Homo sapiens: one gene and its partners. The protein of the gene in region 2 interacts with the protein of the main gene of each other region in a biochemical or structural test. Each region holds a gene or a part of one and is shown on either strand. Other genes may lie near its edges.

Region 1 (4,653 bases), on a different chromosome or scaffold from region 2:
GGACCTCACAGAGCAGGGCTGGGGGCAGAGGCAGGAGGGTGGCAAAGAAGGGACAGGGAGCAGAAGAAGAGGGCCTCAAATGCCTGACTGAGCGAGTGCGAGCCACGGGTGCCAAGCAGAGGGAACCCCTTCAGAAAGGGGAGCCAGGGTCAGTACCTTTGGGCCACCATGACCTCCAGCCCTGCTGCTCCCCAGTTGGTTCCACGGCAAGATCACACGGGAGCAGGCTGAGCGGCTTCTGTACCCGCCGGAGACAGGCCTGTTCCTGGTGCGGGAGAGCACCAACTACCCCGGAGACTACACGCTGTGCGTGAGCTGCGACGGCAAGGTGGAGCACTACCGCATCATGTACCATGCCAGCAAGCTCAGCATCGACGAGGAGGTGTACTTTGAGAACCTCATGCAGCTGGTGGAGGTGAGCTGGGGGGTACAGAGCCTTGCTCCCACCCTCACACACCCTAAACCCATCTGGGGCCCTGGCTTCTAGCTCCAGCCCCACTGCTTCTGCGTGGTGACCAGCCATGTGGGGCAACTTCTGTGAGCCCTTGTTTCCTCACACCTTGGTGGAGCAGCTGCTGCGTGCCAGGACTCACCTCTGACCCCACAGTGCCACCATGAGGAGGGGAGCCTTATCCTCATTTTATAGACCAGGAGTTGAAGGTTCAGAGCAGTTAGGGGACCCACCTGAGGTCCCACAGATATAATTTGGTGCCAGGACTAGAATCTGAGTCTGTCTGATCCCAGAGCTAACTTTCCTCCAGCCACTCACAGACCTGCATGCTCAGAAGCGTGTGCAGAAACATGAGCCATGCGCCTTGATCGCCAGGGCCCCTGAGGCTCTCGCACCTGCACGGACATGCCCACAGGTCCCTGCAGCTTCCCAGGCCAGCTCTGCCAGCCCTGGCCAGGCCACACCTGGCATCCGGTAGCCACAGGAAGCCTCCCGTGTCCCTCTGTATTCACTCTTATCTCCCTCCCCTACTGGCCTGGCTTGGCCTGTGGCAGGTGAGGGTGGGGTCCTGGGCACTCCTGGCTAGAGGCTGGTTTCAGGACTGAGCCATGGGTTGCCCTCTGCATCAGATACCCATGGGGCCCAGAGTGGTAGCAGCAGCTGAGTGTCCAGCAACCGCATGTAGGGTGGCATGGGAAATGGGCCATACGTCATAATCTGGGACTTCCCTAACCCCTGCCCTACCAGAAATGGGGAGCCCTCCCCACTCAGTGACTCCAGGCTAGGCGGGGCTGGCCTCTGCCGCCCTCTGGTGGTCAGGCCTGGACGGTGCATATGGGGCACCTTGGGCTGTCTCTGAGCACCCTGCCCCCCACACCCTGCAGCACTACACCTCAGACGCAGATGGACTCTGTACGCGCCTCATTAAACCAAAGGTCATGGAGGGCACAGTGGCGGCCCAGGATGAGTTCTACCGCAGTGAGTGCACCCCACCCCAGACCTCTTGCCCACCCACCTCCTCCCACGCAGGCTTCCTGGCACTGCCCCATCCAGGAACCTCCAGAGAACCCCAGTGCCTGATAGTCCAGTCAGCCTCTGTCATCCCAGCCATGTCCCTAGTGGCCTCCAGGCCCTCACTGGCCCCTCCCCACAGGCGGCTGGGCCCTGAACATGAAGGAGCTGAAGCTGCTGCAGACCATCGGGAAGGGGGAGTTCGGAGGTGAGCTGGGCCGGGCCCCCTGGGGGGGTTCTGAGGGACTCCGAACTTGGGAACAAGACCACCTCTCTGCCCCCAGACGTGATGCTGGGCGATTACCGAGGGAACAAAGTCGCCGTCAAGTGCATTAAGAACGACGCCACTGCCCAGGCCTTCCTGGCTGAAGCCTCAGTCATGACGTGAGTGGGGGCGGGGTAGGGGGGAGGTTGGCCTAGGTTAGGAGTGAGGCACCAGCTTCCCCTTTCTGACCACTCTCGTCCTGCCCCAGGCAACTGCGGCATAGCAACCTGGTGCAGCTCCTGGGCGTGATCGTGGAGGAGAAGGGCGGGCTCTACATCGTCACTGAGTACATGGCCAAGGTGGGCACCTGCCGAGACCCGGCACTCAGGCCTTCCAACTGCCCCGAAACCCCCACTGTGCTCTAGGGCCCCTGCTCCCTCAGTCCCCCGACCCCAAGTGAGCTTTTAGGTCACCAGGGCTGGGCTTTTGTCCTGGTTTACCATTCATTGACTGTAACATTGGACAAATCATGTCACCTCCAAGCCTCAGCATCACATCTGGGAAATGGAGATAATAACAACTTAGAGATTTGTGAGAGTCAAGGGATAAGGCATGAATAACACAGAGCAGTGTCCGGCATGGATGTTCTGGCCCCTCCCCACTCCTTCCCTGTCTCACACCTCCCTGGAGTGTCAACACCCACCCGGCCCCAGCGTGCTGTGTGAGAGGGCTGCAGGGCACGTCTGACCTCGGCCTGGTCTGTCCTTCCTGCCCCCAGGGGAGCCTTGTGGACTACCTGCGGTCTAGGGGTCGGTCAGTGCTGGGCGGAGACTGTCTCCTCAAGTTCTCGCTGTGAGTGAAGCAGCCTCTTGGATGGGTAGGGTTTGAGGGGTACCCTGCCCTGCTATGGGAGCCCCAGTCTGAGGGGACATGTGGCTGGCCTACCCCCAGAGATGTCTGCGAGGCCATGGAATACCTGGAGGGCAACAATTTCGTGCATCGAGACCTGGCTGCCCGCAATGTGCTGGTGTCTGAGGACAACGTGGCCAAGGTCAGCGACTTTGGTCTCACCAAGGAGGCGTCCAGCACCCAGGACACGGGCAAGCTGCCAGTCAAGTGGACAGCCCCTGAGGCCCTGAGAGAGAAGGTGGGGCTGGCCTCCCCTGGGGCCTACAGAGGTGGGCAGGAGTCCTGGGTCACTCCCCACCCTGGAGTCCCAGGATCTGACGCTGCTTCTTCCATCCACATGGCAGAAATTCTCCACTAAGTCTGACGTGTGGAGTTTCGGAATCCTTCTCTGGGAAATCTACTCCTTTGGGCGAGTGCCTTATCCAAGAATTGTGAGTATGGGTACTGGGATCAGGGTGGCTCTTGGAGCACCGGAGGGGTTGGCAGGGGCGTGAGCCTCCTTGGGCCCTGCCTCCCCAATCAAGGCCTAGAAGCCTCAGGCCTGCCCTGGGGAGCTCACAGGCCACTCTCCGGGCCTGGGTCTGCGGCAAAGCTGATGGGCATCCCTGAGAGGCTGCTGGGTAGGTGTCCTCTCTGAGGCCAGGGCCTGGACTGACTCCTGCCTCCCCCTGGCCACAGCCCCTGAAGGACGTCGTCCCTCGGGTGGAGAAGGGCTACAAGATGGATGCCCCCGACGGCTGCCCGCCCGCAGTCTATGAAGTCATGAAGAACTGCTGGCACCTGGACGCCGCCATGCGGCCCTCCTTCCTACAGCTCCGAGAGCAGCTTGAGCACATCAAAACCCACGAGCTGCACCTGTGACGGCTGGCCTCCGCCTGGGTCATGGGCCTGTGGGGACTGAACCTGGAAGATCATGGACCTGGTGCCCCTGCTCACTGGGCCCGAGCCTGAACTGAGCCCCAGCGGGCTGGCGGGCCTTTTTCCTGCGTCCCAGCCTGCACCCCTCCGGCCCCGTCTCTCTTGGACCCACCTGTGGGGCCTGGGGAGCCCACTGAGGGGCCAGGGAGGAAGGAGGCCACGGAGCGGGAGGCAGCGCCCCACCACGTCGGGCTTCCCTGGCCTCCCGCCACTCGCCTTCTTAGAGTTTTATTCCTTTCCTTTTTTGAGATTTTTTTTCCGTGTGTTTATTTTTTATTATTTTTCAAGATAAGGAGAAAGAAAGTACCCAGCAAATGGGCATTTTACAAGAAGTACGAATCTTATTTTTCCTGTCCTGCCCGTGAGGGTGGGGGGGACCGGGCCCCTCTCTAGGGACCCCTCGCCCCAGCCTCATTCCCCATTCTGTGTCCCATGTCCCGTGTCTCCTCGGTCGCCCCGTGTTTGCGCTTGACCATGTTGCACTGTTTGCATGCGCCCGAGGCAGACGTCTGTCAGGGGCTTGGATTTCGTGTGCCGCTGCCACCCGCCCACCCGCCTTGTGAGATGGAATTGTAATAAACCACGCCATGAGGACACCGCCGCCCGCCTCGGCGCTTCCTCCACCGAGCCTGCTTGTCCTGCCCGGTCGTCCCTCCCATGCCATCTTGTCCATCCCCCTGTGTCTGTGAGTGGGGCTGGGTGGGGAGCATGGCTGGGAGATGTAGCCGCCGCTTTGTGTCAGCTGCACGAGTGAGTGTCCTTGTGTCTGCCCTCCGGGAAGTGCTCACCAGTTGCCCTGCTGCCGCCAGGCCCAGCTCCGGGGCCCCATCTACAGGATGCTGCCTGGGGGTTCCAGCTGCCTCCCCTGCTGTTTTCAAGCCTGCCGCACAAGGAGGGCTACAGCTAGGGATGGGAGGGAGCCCAGGCCTGCACAGATGGGAACGGGGTTCTAGTCAAGCCCCCTGTGCAAGAGAGAGAAAAAGCAATGGTGGGCCCAGTGGGCTTCCTCTGGCAGGAGGAGAAGTGTCTCATGCCTGAGAAGATGCTGACCCGGAGAGGGACGGGAAAGCTCCTGGTGGTTCTCCAGTTTCACCCACGATGTCACAGCTTTGCCCTGTCCCCACCCCTGCCATGTGCCAGGCCTTAGGTCATACCAGAC
Region 2 (7,035 bases):
GCTAAAAAACTATTTACTAAAAACATTACCTTAAAGGGAGAGGATATTTGTGTTTTCCCCCACCCCCACCCTTCTCATGTGGCTTTGAACAAGAAGGAGAGTTGCCAGGAAAAGAGGCAGATTTCAGAGAGGGCTGGCTTCACTGGATCCTCCCTGTTGTTCCACTGCACTGTGAGTGAGATTCCCTGGAGCAAGCGAATCTCCCGGGATGAGTCAGAGAGGCCAACAGTGTGGATGTGGGTCTCCACACATAGCATGACTAAGTTGAGAAAGAAAGGCCCCACTGGGAAAAGAGACTTCAACACAGATGGAAAAAAAACATAACAGGCTTGGAGGAAATAGCAGTTTACAAAACAGCATTTCAAAGAGCAAGTGTGGGGATCCTCAAATTAAAGAAATTAAAAGAAAAAGCTAGAGCAAGCTCCTGCTAGCCTAAAGAAACCAAACCCTGACTACTTGCTCATAGAACTGTGAGCAAAACAAGACAGTCAAACCAAAAAATCCACCTAGAAAAGAATTTGGCAGTCTCACTCAGATGCCTGGCCTAGAGGGGACTTCAGAGAATGCCCTACAGAGAGACACCAAGACTACAAATGCAAATTCTGCCCAAAGAGTGCCTGGCCGATGAACAGGGTCCTATCTACATCTTATGGAGACTCCTATTTTATAAATATGTATCCTCAAGTCCAAGCACAAACAAAATAACAGAAACAGGGATGATTCTCTCCCAGTTTCCATGACAGTAAATAATAAATTTCCCTAAATTTTACTTTCAACAACATAGACTTTTTTTATTTTTATTTTTATTTATTTATTTATTTATTTTTTGAGACGGAGTCTCACTCTGTCACCCAGGCTGGAGTGCAGTGGCATGATCTGGGATCACTGCAACCTCCACCTCCCAGGTTCAAGCAATTCTTCTGTCTCAGCCTCCTGAGTAGCTGGGACTACAAGTGCACGCCACCATGCCGGGTTAATATTTGTATTTTTAGTGGAGACGGGGTTTCACCATGTTGGCCAGGCTGGTCTTGAACTCCTGACCTCAAGTGATCCACTGGTCTTGGCCTCCCAAAGTGTTGGGATTACAGATGTGAGCCACTACACCTGGCCAACAACACAGACTTCTTAAAAAAATCATGACAATAATTTTGGGTGCTTCTTAAAAGCACCCAAAGCTTTACTGCTAATGCATGGTAGCTTAAAACTTCACATAATAAGAAAGAACCAGTGGCCAATGGAATCTACTGTTAAAGGTACCCAATCAAGTAAGGAAAAGTTGGTCCTAAAAGCAAGCAGCCCTGTAAAAGCTGCTCTGTCCAATATGGTAATCACTAGCCATTTGTGTTTCCATTTAAATTTCAAGTAATTAATATCAAGTAAAATTTAAAATTCAGTTCCTTAGTCACACTAGCCACGTTGTGAGTGTGCAACAGGTAAAGCTAGTGGCACAGACATAGAACATTTCCATCAGCACAGAAATCTCTATTGGACAGTGCCAGATTAGGGTGTTCTCTGCATTGTAAAAGCATCCCCTTGCCAAGTTAAAGAAAACAACAACAAAACTCTAGAGAAGAAATGAAACCCCAGTTTCATTTCTGGAGAGGAAAGAAAACTCATGTGTGGCATGAGTTTATATTCAAGAAGGTGCAGCATTATTACCTATTTTACTAGTAATAATGACACACATTATAGTATACAATCCAGTTCCAATAAAATTAATTTCTCATCTTACTAAAAGCTTGCTGCTCCACATTATGAGACAATTTACCCAAATATAGACATTTACCCAAAAATATTAAGTAGCTTGTGAATACTTTTTAAAATTTCCTTTAATTAAAGTGGTCACAAACTCAAACCCTTCATTCTCCCTCTGAGATTTCTGTGTCATCTTTTGTTCACATTGTTATTCACATGTTTATTATGTACTTATTTTGATTTTCTAGATAAATAAAATGGCTTCAAATCTATAATTCTGATAAAATTAGCCATCAATTAATTTATTTATTAAACCCATGCAATATGCTAGATTAGATGCTTTGCTATGTAATTCCTACAATAAATCCTAGCAATCACAAAGATTACAGTTAGTGAGACGACATGCACACAGGTAAAAAGTGTTTTTAAAAAATACATACATACAACCAAAACAGTAAGTCACTGCTACATGGAAACTGATTGGTCCTTTTTCCTTTTTTTTTTTTTGCCTTGACTGCCAGGAAGCAGTTTCAAATCTATAGCTGGATTTTAAGTTTCATTAATTCATGTTCCCACATATGGTTCTGTATTTTCACTTCCCCCTTTTAACTGACATACTGTCTTATGTGATCTCTACTGTAAGCCTTCTCATCATTTTGGAAACAGACCAAATATAATATATATGATAAGGAATCAAAAGTAAATACAGTAGTGTTGAATATTGCATAACAAAAAGGTTTTTAAATAGGGAATGGTATCAATATGAAGTGTTAGGGAGACCCAGCCATGAAAAGGATAGCAGGGTCAGAGAAGGAGGATGTATTGCAGCTGGTTTAATGGAGAATGGTATGAAGGAGGTGCAGTTTGAATTGGGTCATGGAGGACAGATGGATTGCAAATAGCTGGGGCAAAAGCACAGGAAGGCATTCTAAACGAGCCAGGCATGGAGACAAGAATGTCTCCCACAAGGGAGTTGTAGTAGCTCAATCAGACTGGGATTTGAGATTTCATGTGGCAGAGTGGTAGGTGATAAAGGTGAAAAGACTGATCATAGTAAAATGCGGAGTCTGTAAATCCAGCACTCATGATAAGTTTGGACATCATGTCAACAGTGGACAGCCATAAATGACTGCAAGCATCGGTGTGGTATAATGAAGGTGACGTTTTTGTAAAATGACTCTGGTGAAGGTACAGAAGGTAATGAAAAGTAGCCAGTCTAGTTGAGCAGAAAAGAGTTCAGATGTAATTGCATCATGGTCCAGATGTGAAATGAAGACAATGCGAAGTGGCATTGTGGATCGAAACATACATGCACAAAATGACAGAATTTTAGAATTTGAAGGGATCATCATGGTTACCAGGCTGGCCTCCAATTCCTCTTTTGTAATATTAATAGAAATTAAGGGCTAACAAGTTTAAAATGTTATCCATCTTTTTACATAGTTACTGCCCAAAGTGAATATTTTGAAATGTATCATTAAAGAAGAATAGATAAGATTATGTGATTCACCATGGACTATTGTCATGAGAGGAAAAATGTGTTTAGATGATTCTGTTAGCACTGAGACAAATCAGGATATCTGAAAGGAGGTCTTTGTTGAAAAACAGAAATATGCATTCATAACTTGCTTTTCTAAAATTGGAATGTAATGATTCTTAAATATGCACAGACACAAATTTTTCTTTAACAGTCAAGAAAATGCACGCAGGTGATAATCAGATCAGTTTTGGTTATAGTACAAAGGTTTAATGCCTCCGTGATCCCTTTCAACTTGAAAGCATTCTAGAGCAATTGGTGATTAATATCAGTATAACAGTCATTTATAAAATTATTATTTATTTGATATACATCTAATCAAAGCATAAGATTTATTTTTATTATTATTATTATACTTTAAGTTTTAGGGTACATGTGCACAATGTGCAGGTTAGTTACATATGTATACATGTGCCATGCTGGTGCGCTGCACCCACTAACTCGTTGTCTAGCATTAGGTTTAAAAGATCAGATTGTCTCGGCACCATGTTAATATCTTTTTCTGTTGGCATTAGTATTAGTTTTGCTTGTGTATTTGTTTAGGAGATAGCTTCACAAGTTGGTGATTGATATTCTACCATGTATGAAGTCATGCGTGGAATTCAGAATCCCCAGCTTGTAAAATTGCATTATGATCATCTTTAGTGGGAAATTGTTCTCAGAATACTGAGCAAAGGATGATACCAAAATGGCAGCTATTATTCATTCTTAAGCATATGAAATGCTTTCAGGTTCAACCCAAAATTACATACATTTTAAATGCTTACTAAAAGAGTCTTTTCCCTCCTCCATCTATTAACTGCAATCAAAAAACTTCGGTTTTAACTGAACATGATTTCATATTATTTATTAAAATTTAAGGCAAGGTGCACCAAGTACCCTTGAATTATGAAAAGCTTCATGATGTGGGATATTCTTTCAGTTAACGGCAGGGTTGGCTACACTTTTAAGGGGTTCAAAGTAGGAACAGCTGCAATAGTGAGCTGCATCTGGAAAGTCCAGTAATTTGAAAAACCACCTGTTTATGTATCCTGCCCACTCAAGTCCATAAAATAACAGACACTTTCATATTCCAAATGAAACTGCTTTTTAGTTTGCCCTACTTTTAAACATAACTCTTTGTGATGGAATGACCAGAAACAGCTGGTCTCTAAGAGGACAGGGCTATGTGCGCTCACCTGCGGGGTTGGACCTTCCATAATCCCCCTGGCTGTGGGGAAAGTTGAGGGCTGCTGTCTTTATACAAAGATGGTTTATTCCAAGATACACACACTCTTCTTCCACACCCTGGAGACCTTGCATATTTAGTATCTTCTTTACCATAATCTGAGGCCCTAGAGAAAAAGATTTGCAAACTATACTTGTTTTAAAACAACTTTCTAAAAAAGACACTCTCAGCCCCTAGAAATTATGCCTAACACATAGATGCTCAGAGGCAACCTGTTGTAGTGCAAGAGGATTGTGCCAAGATTAGAAAACAAATATTTGCAACTTTTGTAACTGTCTTCTCTAAAACTTGAATGTGGTGATTCTAAAGTAAAGACCGACACAAAATTCTTTTTCTTTAGCAGTCAGGAAAAGGCATGCATGAAGTAATCAGATCAGGTGTGGTTTCAGCATAATGGCCTAATGCTTTCATGATCTCTTTCAACTGGAAAGCGTTCTAGTCCCACTGGACACCAAGGAGGAAGAAGGGACGGAAAATATTAGGCCCATAGGTTTATCTTCCTCAGTAGTCCACGAGATTTGAGCTTATATGTAGGGAGCAAAATTGTTTGTCTAAAAGCAGTTAATAAATGCCCCAAAAAGGCTGGGCGCAGTGACTCACTCCTGTAATCCCAGCACTTTGGGAGCTCAAGATTGGTGGATCATGAGGTTAGGAGAGCAAGATCATCCTGGCCAACACGGTGAAACCCCATCTCTATGAAAAATACAAAAATTAGCTGGGTGTGGTAGCGCGTGTTTAATCCCAGCTACTGGGGAAGCTGAGGCAGGAGAATGGCTTGAACCCAGGAGGCCAAGATTGCAGTGAGCCAAGATTGCGCCACTGCACTCCAGCCTGGTGACACAGCGAGACTCCGTCTCAAAAAATAAAATAAATAAAATAAAATAAAATAAAATAAAATAAAATAAAATAAAATAAAATAAAATAAAATAAAAATAAAATGAACGCCCCAAAAATATTTTGGGCAAACTATTTTGTGTTTCTTTTCTTTATTTATTTATTTCTTTTGAGACAAAATCTTGCTCTGTTGCCCCGGCTGGAGTGCAATGGCACAATCTTGGCTCACTGTATCCTCAACCTCCTGGGCTCAAGCAACTCCTGAGTAACTGGGACCACAGGGATGTGCCACAATTCCCGGCTAATTGTTTTAGCCAGGATATAAATGCTGCCTACATAGAGTTTGTAGCTATCTCCTTGACTTTCTTTATGCAGATTCCTTCACAAACTTTTGATGGATTCCTTTACCAAATTCTACTGTCTGTTAAAATCTTCTATCTTTATATCTTTAGTCCAAACAACACGTCATTTATAAACCTTAAAATTGTTTCTGGGCAAATAAACAAGGCAAAATAGGAATATATATTTTTAGGCAATTTACTTCTGTTTTGGTCTCATAAAAAATTGTAATTAAATTGTAGAAAATATTTCAATTCCTCTTTAATATCCTCTCCTCACATACTGGCTCTCAACTTCTAATCCTCCTATTGAAACATTGATTGGGAGGCCAAGGCAGGCGGATCAACTGAGGTCAGGAGTTTGAGACCAGCCTGGCCAACATGGTGAAACCCTGTCTCTACTAAAAATACAAAAGATTAGCTGGGCATGGTGGCATGCACCTGTAGTCCCAGCTACTTTGGTGGCTGAGGCACGAGAATCGCTTTAACCCGGGAGGCAGAAGTTACAGTGTGCCAAGATCAAGCCACTGAACTCCAGCCTGGGCGACAGAGTGAGACTCCATCACAAAAAAATAAAAATAAAAATTGAAATTTGCAGCCTTTTTAAAACCCCATAGCCTCTTTATAAACCCAAAAGCACTATCAAATTTGGCGAGGTGTCAAAAGAATCAGAGGAATGTTTACAAATACAGATGCCTGGGCCCACCTCAGATATATATATATATATATATATATATATATATATTTTTTTTTTTTTTTTTTTTTTGAGACGATGTCTTGCTCTGTCACCCAGGCTGGAGTGCAGTGGCATGATCTCAGCTCACTGCAAGCTCCGTCTCCCGGGTTCACGCCATTCTCCTGCCTCAGCCTCCCAAGTAGCTGGGACTACAGGCGCCCGCCACCACGGCTGGCTAATTTTTTCTATTTTTTAGTAGAGACAGGGTGTCACCGTGTTAGCCAGGATGGTCTCAATCTCCTGACCTTGTGATCCGCTCGCCTCGGCCTCTCAAAGTGCTGGGATTACAGGCGTGAGCCACTGCACCCGGCCCAGATATATTAAATTAGAATATCTAGAGGTGGAGCCTGAGTATCTGTATTTTTCAGAGTTTCAAATGATCGTTCTTCAAATGATTACACTGTGAAGTCAGATTTAGAAATGACTGTACCCAAGGTTGGCTAAAAGATACACACCCTGGTTGATTCTACCTGAAGAGAGCAAATAAGATACACAGCAAAGTTGTAGATGTTTTCCCTGCCAGTAGAATACTTGCGGGTTAGGCCATTTAAAACCCTGCCAGAGAGTTTTGAAACACTGTGGAGGGCTCCCAAATCAACTTGCTCAATGGTTCTCCATCCCTTCAGGCTACTTGGGCTTAAAGCCAACTGCAAGCTTAGAGCCTCAG
Region 3 (6,168 bases), on a different chromosome or scaffold from region 2:
ATGATTTCAGGAAATATGGTGGAAGAGGCCATCCCTGGAATGGAGAAGGCCAAAGAGGAGAGGCCAGGGAAGATGCTAAATATGTGGTCCATGTAGATATTGAAATTACCAAGATGTCAAGGATAGAGGTACAACAAAAGCCTATGAGCTTTTGCATCAATGATTTGCCCAACTTTGTATAATTTCCTCCTCTTTGAACTTCTTAACTTTGTGCCCCCTTCATAATATATGTCTTATTCTTTGCCTTATTGTGTATTTTTTTCTTCTTCTTCTAGACTAGGCAATGAAAATAAGCTTGTTTGCCATCTTCTGTAAAGATACACAAACTAGACATTTTCCAACACAGTGTCGCAGTGAATAAGGATTATGAGATTTAAATAGTGACTCTAGGAAGCCTCTATATAATTGAGGGCAAAACCATTTCATGAAGGGCCAGTCCTAGTTTTGAATAGGTAGGAGAATGCAAGATAATGGTTTAAGAGTAATGCTTCAGAGAAATCTTATGTCATATGACAAAGATGTATAGAAACAATCAAAGTTTATCTTCAGAAAAGATCTGTCAATTTTTAAATAGTACAAAAATAAACAGACATTTATTTCCAGACTTATCTTTTACATAAGTTAAATACACATTTGTCTGAGGCACTGAAACATTCGCATACACAACCCAAATTCCCAGGTTTTGTCAGCAGATCAATGTTAATAACAAATCAAGTTTTTTTTTTAAAAAAAACAGTGAACAGTGTTTTATACAAGCATATTGACTATTTCTTTCTTAACCTTAAACATTCTAAACGTAAAATTGTAAAGAAGATTCTCCTGAGTTATCTTTAATGATATTTATTTCATTTTCTCCCTCTTCCCAAAAGAAAATTTTTTTCAATTATTTATATAAATACTATTATCTGTAATCAGCGTTTGATTTAAAAATATTAAAACCCACAGTGCTTGACACAGAATATTTTCTCAATAAATTGTGGCTGAACAAATTAACGAAGCATCCACAGATCCCTCAAAACATTTTAAAAGGTCAGTCTTATGGCACATTCAGGCTAATGAGACAATATTCTTTGTGGGCTAGCACATAGGCCTATCCTAAGGACAAACATTCAACCTTAAATATCTCAATATGCCAATCAGATTTCTAAAAATTTATTCACAAATCTTAATACAATCATTTCTTTGGATTGTTTACATAATATTCAGAGAGGTAACCCCAAAGAAAATATACTGATTGTGACATAACAAAAAAAAATCAATGATTGTAGGCTTAAACACAGTTTATAACCATAGTGTCCTAATAAGACATAAATAATAATCTTCAATAAATTAAGTAATATACAGTACCATTAAATGTCAGTGACAATGAGATGTGGAAAAGAAGTATTATCGTCATTATTATTATTGCTGAGAACTACTTAGATATCATTTGGTTTTGTTTTTAAATAAGAAAGGGCATTAATTAGAATGGGAACGTAACTTTTTCCAGTCACAAACCCCGTACAGTTCTCTCTGAGGCACTAGCCTCTTTGCATCCATCTTGGTTACAGATAGCTAAAATTAGCTATAAATAAAATTCTCTGCTTTTCACTTAAAATAAGTGTATACTATTTTTAAAAGGGCCTTTTTTTTTCTCTTTTAATCTTCTTAAGAGGAGCTAAATAGCAGTCCTGAGCTGAGGTTTACCTGAAAACTTGCAAAAGTTCAGGTAAGAAAATATAGGCAGAGTCCAAAGAAAGTGAACTCTGATCTTAAAACTAGTAAAACAAAATAGGAGAAACGAAGTGATGAGAAGACTGTGTCTCTTAGCAAAATGGCTAAAAGAAGAAAAGAAAAGGAACAGCATGCAGGTAGCCAGGCTTGATTCCAATGCACCTACTGAATTGGCTTCAAGACTGAGATAAAATTAATGTGTGAAATGAATTTAAGCATTTTGAAGAGGTATTTTATGAGGTCATTGCTACTTTTGCAATGTGATATGGACTGCTAAATTAAACTGTACAACAGAAAATCTGAGAAAACATATCATTATTCAAGCACAGCTTGGTACTTCATTAACCTCATAGCAAAATCTGAGTACCAGGCCTGCAGTGCACAAGGATAAAAAAAAGTTTGCTTCAAAAGTTTAAACCTAAATTTGAACAATAATTTGGTTTTCTTCTTTGTTATTGCTTATTTTAAAGGTAGACCCTTTTGCTGATATAGATTTTACATGTTACCAGCCATATAAACAAATTCTGGAATATCTCAACAAAATATTCTTATTTTAAGATAACACTGCAGTGGCTCCACCACCTTAATAAATTTGGCATTTTGATTTAAAAGGAAGTTTTAACAGTCACACTAAAAAGGTTTATACTCTTGGTGAAAAAGGAACATCACTTATAAAATATTTTAACAAGCAATTGTAGTAAAATTTCTACTGATTTTACAGATTTAAATCCAAGACAGCTTCTTTTTGGTATATGTACAAGTTTAATAACTTTAAGAAATCAAACAAGCTTTTACAGGTGATTCTACCCTATGAATTTAGAAATTTCAAATTATTGTTTCATTGCTGATTTTAAAAAGTAGACATGAAATTACTGGTAATGTCTAATTTAAATATTCATTTAATAATGCACTGATACCTGTTTTTGTTTGATGACAGAAAAATAACCAAAAGTACTTTAAAATTTCAAACATTAGTTACTTCTAATGCATCATGGAAGATGCATTGGAAACATCGACAGTGTAAAAACTTTCAGCATTTTGCCATCTTGTGACAGTGTTTAAGTATTCAAACATCTTTACTTTCGTTCTTATAATATAAGTTGAAATTCAAGTAAAAAGACGTCAAAACTCATTTCTCTCTGGTTTATAAAACAGAATAAAAACTGTTTTCCAAACTTAACAGCAACAGCAAAATCTTTAGAGTAGTGACATAAAAGTCTTCACAAGTATGACTCCTTTCTCCGCAACAGGAGTACTGACTTCTGTTACAGAAGATGTTAAGTAACATAAGGAGTTTAATATAAATATTATTAAATAATTAAATTAATAGACATGGTTCATATAAATAAATAAATATGATCATTAGACTTCTACAGTTCAGTCGAACGTTCTTTTAGTAGTACTGTGGGATTGATATCATCTAGTCCGGAGCGGGAAGAACTTGCATTGATGGTGACTGTTTTAATGAGCTCTGGATCTGGAACACTGAATGAAGTAAAGGGACAGCCCTTCACGTTATTGCAGATGAGAGACTGAATTGAGGCAGTGTTGATGATTTGAAAACCCACTTCTCCACCAAAAGTGCTTGGCTTCCAGTAGGCAGGAGAACATATAACATTACCCATAAGTCCTTTCAAGGAGAATGGTGCTCCAACTTCTACCATGGTTTCACCAAAGATGGCATCTGGCCGAGGCTTTTCTACCAGAAGGGCAGGATACAGCTCCACAGCATCGATGTCACCATAGAGTGCTTCCAACTCTGCAGACATTTCCTTTTCTCCTGTGAAGGCGATGAAGACAGAGATACAACCAATGTCAAACTTCACAAAATAAAAAACAGTTTGATTCTTTTGCTCAATTTGCTGCCAACTTCTCTGTTTCCATTTGACCCCTGATTCTTTTAAGAAGTTTAGGGGCCAGGCGCGGTGGCTCACGCCTGTAATCCCAGCACTTCGGGAGGCCGAAGCCGGCGGATCACTAGGTCAGGAGTTTGAGACCAGCCTGGCTAACACGGTGAAACCCCGTCTATACTGAAAATACAAAAAATTATCCATGCGTGCGACGTGAGCCTGTAGTCCCAGCTACTCAGGAAGTTGAGGCAGGAGAATTGCTTGAACCCAGGAGGCGGAGGTTGCAGTGAGCCGAGATGGCGCCACTGCACTCCAGCCTGGGTGACAGAGGGCGGCTCCATCTCGAAAAGAAAACCAAAAACAACAAAAACAAACAAACAAACAAAAAACGAAGAAGTTTAGAAACTGTTTCTTACCTGTAAGTTCTTCAAATGATTCATAGGGCTTCAGCATAAAGCGTTTGCGGTACTCATTAAAAGACTGGTATTTCATCTGCCTGCTCTGGTCAATGGAAGCCTGTGATACTTTCTGTACTGCGGGTGGAACATTCCTACCACCAGCAACCTGTGGAAAGTAAAATTAGTTGTAAAACAAGAATTTTAGGCATATTTACTGTTTGTATTCAGCTTGCCTTAGGTACAAATCAGGTAAAACTGAAACTCCCAGCGGAGACAATTTTTATTTGCTGGAAAGATGCTTACCTACATTTCAACAGGAGCTCTGCTTAAAATTCAATGGGACACCAGCCTAGAACTAATTTGCCTTTTTACATTTCAAAAATAACACTAGTATTCAAGCCTAAAATATTTATTCCTATAAGATTATAGATACTTTTTGAAAATATTTTTAAGGTAGGGGTACAATTTGCTATTTGTCTGACAACTGTAGACTAGACTAAAAGTTTAGACTTTTCAAACAAAGTTAGGCTTCTTATATCAATAAAATAATTTTACTAGCAATATAACTAACTACTCTTTTAGTAAGTTTAAGAAAAATAATTTCCGTGGCAGAAATTCTAAAGTTACTGACTAGTCTTTTGTTTTGGTTTTCAATAATAATGCTTACCCTGCCAGCAATTTGCCTGGTGAATGATTCAACAAACTGGGTAATTCCATGTTCCAGCAATATAGAGTTGTTGTAGATAAACTGTTGATAGTTGTATTTCTGGTCATGAATTTGAAAGGTGTCAGGCAGAAGGGGATGCCAGTGATAGAGGGTGTTAAATTCAGCAGCAATACGATTTTGGTACTGGAATTGTTTGTTGAAAAGTAGTTCTGGGTCAAATTTCAGTTTGAAGTGATAGCCACTCAAGTGTTGCACATAATCTTCAATCACAATCTTAATAGTCTCTCCTATTTGCACAAAATAAATAATAAAAACATTTATTGCATCTGATCACAAGCTTTCAAGCAACTGGAATGCAATTTTTAAAATTTGCTATTCCTTCATTTCTGTTTTCTTCCTTGTCAGTATCAAAAGATAGCTATTTTATCAGTCATGCTTACATATTTAATGTATATAGAATGTGTGAGTTTTCATTTACCACATCTTGTCATTTACTCAAAACATAACAAAGATAGCACACTAATTTTCCCTGGGGAAGAGGGTTTTATATAAATCATTTTCTTGTTTACCTATCAGTATTAGCCTGCTTGTCTGGAACAACTGCTCATCACCCCATTCAGGATGCTCCTGTTTAAGCACATCGCATACTCTGTTGTGTTCCCGCAGCCAGATTGTGGCATACATCATCAGACCAGGCACCAGACCAAAGACCTCCTGCCCCACAGCAAACCGTAGATGCTCAGGGACTTGAGGAGGGTAGATCATCTCTGCCTGAGTATCTTTGACTGTGGGAGGATACATCTCTCCATCAATTATCTAAAAAAATAAATAAATAAATAAACATCAGTTAAAAAGTTAAGGAACACATTTTTAGGGATTTTAAAATATGGGTATAAGCGGTAATAACTAAGTCTTAATAGTCAAAGGAAGCATACCTGATATTTCATTTTTCCATCCTTGAAAAGGCGCAGTTTACGCTGTCTAGCCAGAGTTTCACCGTAAATATGATTTAAGTCCACCTAGAAAATGATGAAAAAATTTTAATTTGTTGCTGTTGAAGTTTTTCTTATATAAAGTGTCTATCATATAATTCATCATTAAATAATTTGATCATTTAGCTTTCTTTAAAATTTTTAAATAAAATATACATTTTTCATAGCCATGAATTGCTAAATTAATTTGTTTATCCACCAAAGCTACAAACTGATATGTCTTTGTGTTTAACGGAATTAATATACTATATTGAGCTTATATCATATATATTATATACTTCACTATGATGATATGGTAATTATAAAAAAGTATAAAAATGTATTATTTATAAAAAATTCTTACGAATAACTTGAAGCTATGCTATTGAAATCCAAAAAATAATAATGCGGCAAAAACCTCACTTTACAATATTGAAAGCGGCATAATCATGGTACAATGTGTTTTTGAGGACATAACATTTTGCAGTACTAACATTTTAAACTAAAAAATACAAGGGTCAAATTACAAATAACAATACCTGTACATATGTATGTGTGTGAATGTTTAT
Region 4 (7,035 bases), on a different chromosome or scaffold from region 2:
AAGAACCGCATAAAACGATCCAGAGGAAACCATTTCTATCAGAAAAATAAAGTACAAGTTTAGGTGATGAGCGTAAAGCTAGGGCCTGTGCGAGGCTGCTGGCACGAGGCGGTATGAAGGGGTGGGAAGGTGGCTTCTCCCGGCGTGAAGCCTCAGGGGCGGCCACCTGCCCACTGCTCTCGGAGTTAGCTGCTCTGTCAAGGTCCAGGAGACCCCGGGTCCCTGCCCAGAGTCACAGCCCCCGTATCTGGGCTCCGGCCTGGGGCAGCCTCGGGGAGAAGATGGCAGGCGTGCTCTGTGAAATACGTGAGGCTTTCAGGGGCTCCGTTTGTGGTTTTCCTAACCCTCCCTGATGACCCCCACAGAACATGAGGCTATGTCACTCACGGTAATTAAATAAGACATTCGCCCAGTTCAAGAGTGCAGCCAGGACCAGGACTGGCCAGGCCCTTTCCTCCCACCTGTGCGCAGGTGCCCAGTGGCAGCTCTATTCTCTCTCAGGGCGGCTACACAGAGGCAGGGCTTTGAAATGCTTCAAGAACTCAGAAAAGTGAAGGCTGTCTTGTTCCAAAGGAAAGGGCCTTGTAAGAATCTACTTTGTCTTAGAGGAGTGGGGGAGGGGAAGGGCCCTTTCAGGGCACCCAGATGTGTGAAAGGACGGTTCACTCTGGGCCCTTGCAGACCTGCCTGGGCCCAGTCTGGGGCTATTTGGCACCAGCTGTTCACCCCACTAGCCACTGCCTCCCTTGTCCCCTGCCTCCATTCTGCTGGGGGAGGGATGTCGGCAGTGACAGTGACCTGCCACCCTTGAGACTCAAGCTTTCTTGCCAGGATTCACAGTGCACGTCACAAGAGAGCAAGAGCTGGGCTCTGGGGATGTGGACAGATGGAAAGGACATGCCCCATGCCTCGATCCTTTTCAGCTCCCACCTGCCCAGGACCCAAAGGCTGGTTGGCTTTAGCACCCTGTTTTCCACCCAAATCAAGAGCTGTCCTGCACGTGAGGAAATGGCGAGTGCACCCCACCCCGGGCAGCAGCAGAGGGCAGAGTGACCAGCCGTGTGCATGCCCGTGCATGCCCTTCCCGAAATGCGGTTCTTGAAACATGTCTTCAGCACACGACGGGCAAGGCCAGGGAGTGCAGGCAGAGGGCCTGACACACAAGGCCTCAGTTCAGGCTTCCATTCTTGGAGAAGTGGAAGAAGGAGGCCCAGCCGGGGGAGGAGGGGCTCCAGAGAGAAAAAAATGAAAAAGACAGTCCACATCAGCCGTTCCCACCTGGCCTGGAGAGCTCAGTCTGGGGCACTAGGTGGGAGCGGGGCTGGCGGGTCCTGGCATGCCGACTGCAGTCCACGGAGCAGGAACTCCACAGATAAAATTCGAGGACAGAGACGGAGCGGGGAGGAGGAAGGTGCGGGAGGGCAGGCGGTGCAAACGTAGGTAGTAGAGCTGGACTCCACAGGGCCCTCAGCTCTGCCTGGCGCAGAGCTCCTGGGCCAAGGTGCTGACTCACTAGTCCCTTGTCAGCCACTGTCACGGGTATGGGCGAGCCCGCATGTGCTGCAGGCAGCTCCGACGGGCCTGACACCTGACCCCTGACTGCTGCTACCTCTGCACTATGTCACTGATTTCCTTCACCGAACTGAGGAGCTTGCTGAAGTCCTGAGTGGCCGCTGGACCACTGCCTGCTGTCGCCGGGCAGATCTGAAGCTCCCGGAGATTATTCTCCAGTTTGTTGATGGCCTCTCGGAAGGCAAACTTGTTCCTCATTTGCTGGATGGAATCCACATAGCTCACGCAGAACGTGTAGAGGTTTTTGCCGGCCTCCAGCACTGCGCTGTGGCTGGCCATCTGCTCGGAGTTCCTAGAGATGGCGAGGCACAGCGCCTCGGTGCTGTCCAGGACCACGCCCTTGGTGATGGCGCCGCTGGCGATCCGCTCTGGAGGCTGGCGGGTTTTCCGAAGAGACACTCGGGTTGATATGAGAGGGATGAAGGCGGTGGAAGACGGCTGGTCCCCTGCCAGGGCCGAGGATGCTGATGGCAACGTGGAGGGAACGGGGGCTGGGCTGATGGGGGTCCCCGACGGCTTGGCGGACTGTGGCTTTGGAGTGGCCGGGAGCACGGGCTTTTTGAGGCCCTCTCCCGGCTGGCTGGGCTTGGCAGCGTCACTGTTCACAGCATCAACCAGACTCGTGGCTTTTGTCTTTGCGCCCAGGACTGCCTCCCCGGCCGCCTCCTGGCTCGGGCTCTGCGAGGGCTTTCCTCCAGCCTTCCCTGCAGAGGCTGCTGGTGGGGGCGGCGGGGCAGGTTTGAGCCTGGACAATTTCCCCTTGTCCCTCCCTGGCGACTCAGAGGAGTGCTTGTGCCTCCTCACTCTGGACTCCTCGGCGGGGCCCTTGCTGGTGCCCCCTGGTGCACCTGAGCCTGCTTTGCTGGTGGGGGTCACTGGCTCAGCTGCAGCAGGGGTCCCTAAGGCACTGCCCTTTCCAGCTTCTTCCTTGTGGGGGAGGCCCGAGGCAGGGGCCACGGTGACCTGCCGCCGGAGGGGTTTTGGAGTCAGGTTGGGCGGGCTGGAGCCCGGGCTGGACTCCATGATGTCTTTGAAGACCTCATCAGCAGCTTCCTCATTCTTTTTCACCAGCCTGGGGGGAGGCGTTACTGTGCCTCGGGTCACCTGGTCAGACCTGTTCTCCCCTGCCCTCTTCCGAGGCAGAGCCGGCTTCTCACTTTTGTGCCCTCCAAATGTGGACGAGTCAAACTGTCTTCCCGTGGACTGCAAGTCCCGAGGCAGCGTGACTGACCTCCACTCCGTGTCCTTGGCCCCATGGGGAACGCAGGAGGCGGAGCAAGAGCGCAGGAAGCGCTTGCTGGAGCTGCCACCGCCCTCCTCCTCGCCGGTGGCTAGGCGGCTGCTGGTCAGCGTGCTGGACTTCTTCCACAGGTGGGGAGACCGGAAGCCTGAGCCCCCGGACTCCCGGAGGGCTCCATTGGGGACCCCAGCCCCATTGCTGGGCTTTGGGGACTTGGCTGGGTCAGCTGTGTCCAAGGGGGTGAAAGCCAGTGCCCCGTTGCTGATGTCTCGGCCCTCTTCCTCGCCGGCCCCTCTGCGCTCCGGCTGGCCGTCCATCTCCCGGAAGGAGCTGCTGCGTTTGGGAGGGGTTGGGGCTGTCTTCTTCTTCTTCTTGATCAAGGCGCTGAACAAGTTGGTCTTTTTGTCTTTGGGGAGAAGGCGCTCATCTTCATTCAGGCCGCCCTCCGGGGGACCTCGCTCTTTTCGAGGGAGCAATGGAGACACGGCAGGCTCATGGTCCAGAGGATCTGAAACGCAAGGGGAAGAGCTGACAACTCCAGACAACTCTAGAGGCTGACAGAGGAGAATCGCTTGAACCCGGGAGGCAGAGTGCCACTGCTGCACTCCAGCCCAGGAGACAGAGTGAGACTCCATCTCAAAACAAACAAACAAACAAACAAAAAAATTGTCAAAGGTCATCCCTTCTTATCTCCTGTGCATAATGGCCCATTGTCCCTTCCCCACTGTGGGACACAGCCCCTTATTCCCAGAGCTCCTCATAGGCCTCTCGGCTAGCTGGCTGGCAGGAGAGCCACAGGTTTTGACCCTTTGCTTGGCCTTGTCATCGTTTTTATACTCACTAGAGAGTGATGTGGGTGGGTGGGGGGCTGCTGCCTTCAAGTAAACCAGTGCAGGGATGAAGAGGCCAGGGCCGTCCAGCTTTTTGTTCCCATCTTCAGGGAAAGAGACCAAAGCGTGTGTGTGGTTTTTTTTTTTTTTTGAGTTGGAGTCTCGCTTGTTGCCTACGCTGGAGTGCAGTGGCACGATCTCAGCTCACTGCAACCTCCGCCTCCCAGGTTCAAATGGTTCTCTTGCCTCAGCCTCCCAAGTAGCTAGGACTATAGGCACCCGCTACCACGCCTGGCTAATTTTGTATTTTTAGTAGAGACGGGGTTTCACCATGTTGGTTAGGCTGGTCTCAAACTCCTGACCTCAGGTGATCCACCCGCCTTGGCCTCCCAAAGTGCTGGGATTACAGGCATGAGCCACTGCACCCGGCCCAAAGCCTTTCCTAATGACAATCCTAACAGCAATGATGGCTTTATTGAGAGAAGCGTGACACGTGCTTCACCTTTACAACCTCATCTGCATTCTCACAACAGTGCTGTAGCCCGGCTGGGACTTGCCTGGCCTCAGGGATGGTGGCATCAGAGCCGGTTATCAGATCCAGGCCTGTCTGAGCCCAGACGCTTGGGTGCTCCTCTGGGGAGCATGGGGTGGGGGCAGCCCCCAGCTTGTGCCACGGGAGCCTGACCTTGTGATTCGCTGACCTCGGCCTCCTAAAGTGCTGGGATTACAGGTGTGAGCCACCACGCCCGGCCAACAGTTTTTTAATGGGCACTCTTTAAATATGAATCATAGCTCATAAGAAATCTTTCTGGTAGCCAGGCGCGGTGGCTCAAGCCTGTCATCCCAGCACTTTGGGAGGCTGAGGTGGGCGGATCATGAGGTCAAGAGATAGAGACCATCCTGGCCAACATGATGAAACCCCGTCTCTACTAAAAAATGCAAAAATTAGCTGGGTGTGGTGGCACACGCCTGTAGTCCCAGCTACTCAGGAGGATGAGGCAGGAGAATCGCTTGAACCCAGGAGGTGGAGGTTGCAGTGAGCTGGTATCATGCCATTGCACTCCAGCCTGGCAACAGAGTGAGACTCCATCTCAAAAAAAAAAGGAAATCTTTTTGGTGTTGCCAAGCTCCTGCTAGTGAGTAACAGAATTCTCCCTCAGAGGTCAGCTTGCAAGAAGAGGTTTTCTGTTGGCACCTGTAACTCAACAGAGGTACCAGTATGCATTTATCAGAACCCAAGGCAGCACGCGGGACATCTGAATCAGGGAACACCAAAGCCCTCCCAAAACTTTAATCTAGTGGAAGGAGGCCAGGAGAGTGAAATTGCAATGAATTATGCACCACTCAGTTTCAGCACTGAGCAGTTAATTGACACCCTCGGCTCACCAAGAGATCACTATCAAAATACCCCTCAGATGAAACTGACGGGCGTAAATGAACATGACTGCTGATCACTGGGTTCTTAATAAGCACAGCGTTCCCAGAGGCCTCTCCTCCCTACTGCTCAGCCACCTGAAATCAGGAAAACCGATAAGAGGAGGAAGGGTGGAAGATTCTGGAGAGTCTATACGCCATAACCTCCAAGTAGGTGAGTGAGATGGCCCAGCGGGGCGGGAAGTATTGCAAATTTGGACTTATTTAGCATGCAAGCCTTTTAAATGTGCGTTTTGGTACATAACATACGCACTCTACTCCTACAGTAGTGGACATACGTACTTTATATACCATATATATGGGCTGCATGTTCTGTTTTTTTTTGTTTTTTTTTTACTAATGAGAGTACGTGATAAAACTCAGGTTTATAGATTCTGCTGTCAGTAAACATCCCACCATAAATCTTCAAGAAGTAGGGCTTTGTCCAGTCCCTTCACATGTACCCAGTCTGCAGTCCATTAGAATGGAGTCCACCATTGCCATCCCCAGGATCCTCTGTGAACCCAGATGCTTGGCCTACCCCCCACCTCCAATATGGGTTGGCTGAGTCCCCACCCAAATCTCACCTTGAATTGTAATAAGCCCCACGTGTCAACGGTGGGGTCAGGTGGAGATCAATGAATCATGGGGAGGTTTCTCCCACATTCTCGTGGTAGTGAATAAGTCTCACGAGATCTGATGGTTTTATAAAGCGGACTTCCCCTGCACAAGCTCTCTTGCCTGCCGCCAAGTAAGATGTGACCTTGCTCCTCATTCACCTTCAGCCATGATTGTGAGGCCTCCCCAGCCATGTGGAACTGTGAGTCAGTGAAACCTCTTTCCTTTATAAATTACCCAGTCTTGGGTATACCTTTATTAGCAGCATGAAAACAGACTAATACACCCCTCAATGCTTTTGTTCAGCTGGTCTGCAGCAGAACCTGGACTGCTGGTTCTGGGGGTCAACCATGAACATAGAACAGAGCCTGGCCTGTAGTAGGCACACTACATAAATGTTGGCCATTATTATTTTTGCTAGTGTCTTGAGACCCCCTCCTGAGCTGATCCCAACTCCCTTGCTCGCCTAGGCAATGGCACCAGAAAGATGCTCTTCCCAGAGACCACCAGGACACGGGTTCTGTCCATGTGCGTGTCCTGGTTCCACCTGGCTGCAGCGAGCTTCTCACATCAGTGCCTTCACCGTGAGCTGCTTGTCACGCAGCCTGGTGCTTACTATTGTTGAATCTGCTCTGAGACAGCAACCACAGATGCCGCGGGTAATAGGTGGGAGATGGGCTAGCTCCTTGGCGGGCTTCAGAAGCACCTCTGCCTACAGGACTGAACTCACTGCTGGAGCCTATGCTCCTCGGGGACTCTCAGAGGGAGGGGATAGGAGGCAGGTGGGGAGAGGAGAACCTTCCTCCTTCCGAAGCTGAACCATTGACAAAGGCCATGGCTGCCCTTCTGTGCGGGCTCCATTCACAGCTTCCCGTTGGCCTATGATGGCCTGAATGTAGCCTCTGGCAGGGAAGGGAAGAGCAGTGGGGTTGGGGGAAGCGGGGGACTTACCGCTCTCTCCCTGGCCCTTGGAGTGAGGCATCTCAGGCACGTCAGTGGTGTCTCTGTGCTCTGCAGCTCTCCTGGAGGTCCTCGTCTTGGTGGGCAGCTCTGGGGCCTGCAGCAAGGTACTCACAGCCCCACGGACGCCTTGTTTCCCCAGCTCCTTTTCCACTTCTAAGAATCATACAGGGACAGAAACAAAAATCCAGCAGCCATCAGTACTGGTGTTGGCTTGGTGTGGTGGTTCTCTTTCTTTGTAAGGTAACAGTGCTCATCTGCATACAACTAAAGAAAAGGCACGTGGATACCGGAGAAACAGCCCTTAGCATTTCTTAGAACTCTGCAGGGCTGCAGCAGACAAGAAAGCACAATACTCCACACCTCTGCCCAGCTTTCTGGTCTCAGGACAGGCTGGTCTGT

Evidence for each region.
Region 1: the proteins of CAV1 (region 2) and CSK form a complex in vitro, tested with the Homo sapiens proteins (one study listed by BioGRID).
Region 3: the proteins of CAV1 (region 2) and PTGS2 form a complex in vitro, tested with the Homo sapiens proteins (2 studies listed by BioGRID).
Region 4: the proteins of CAV1 (region 2) and ABL1 interact on a protein array, tested with the Homo sapiens proteins (one study listed by IntAct).

The regions. Positions count from the first base shown.
Region 1 is NC_000015.10:74,799,077-74,803,729, forward strand, and holds the end of CSK (tyrosine-protein kinase CSK), read left to right. Parts: intron 1-195; coding exon 196-415; intron 416-1,335; coding exon 1,336-1,429; intron 1,430-1,604; coding exon 1,605-1,670; intron 1,671-1,746; coding exon 1,747-1,846; intron 1,847-1,935; coding exon 1,936-2,026; intron 2,027-2,445; coding exon 2,446-2,519; intron 2,520-2,618; coding exon 2,619-2,814; intron 2,815-2,920; coding exon 2,921-3,007; intron 3,008-3,254; coding exon 3,255-3,437; 3' UTR 3,438-4,121; downstream 4,122-4,653. UniProt on the Homo sapiens protein: Non-receptor tyrosine-protein kinase that plays an important role in the regulation of cell growth, differentiation, migration and immune response.
Region 2 is NC_000007.14:116,528,020-116,535,054, forward strand, and holds part of CAV1 (caveolin-1), read left to right. Parts: intron 1-7,035. UniProt on the Homo sapiens protein: May act as a scaffolding protein within caveolar membranes. Forms a stable heterooligomeric complex with CAV2 that targets to lipid rafts and drives caveolae formation. Mediates the recruitment of CAVIN proteins (CAVIN1/2/3/4) to the caveolae.
Region 3 is NC_000001.11:186,671,270-186,677,437, forward strand, and holds the end of PTGS2 (prostaglandin G/H synthase 2 precursor), read right to left. Parts: intron 5,648-6,168; coding exon 5,564-5,647; intron 5,445-5,563; coding exon 5,198-5,444; intron 4,916-5,197; coding exon 4,629-4,915; intron 4,128-4,628; coding exon 3,980-4,127; intron 3,494-3,979; coding exon 3,084-3,493; 3' UTR 522-3,083; downstream 1-521. UniProt on the Homo sapiens protein: Dual cyclooxygenase and peroxidase in the biosynthesis pathway of prostanoids, a class of C20 oxylipins mainly derived from arachidonate ((5Z,8Z,11Z,14Z)-eicosatetraenoate, AA, C20:4(n-6)), with a particular role in the inflammatory response.
Region 4 is NC_000009.12:130,880,254-130,887,288, reverse strand, and holds part of ABL1 (tyrosine-protein kinase ABL1), read right to left. Parts: intron 6,790-7,035; coding exon 6,625-6,789; intron 3,321-6,624; coding exon 1,606-3,320; 3' UTR 1-1,605. UniProt on the Homo sapiens protein: Non-receptor tyrosine-protein kinase that plays a role in many key processes linked to cell growth and survival such as cytoskeleton remodeling in response to extracellular stimuli, cell motility and adhesion, receptor endocytosis, autophagy, DNA damage response and apoptosis.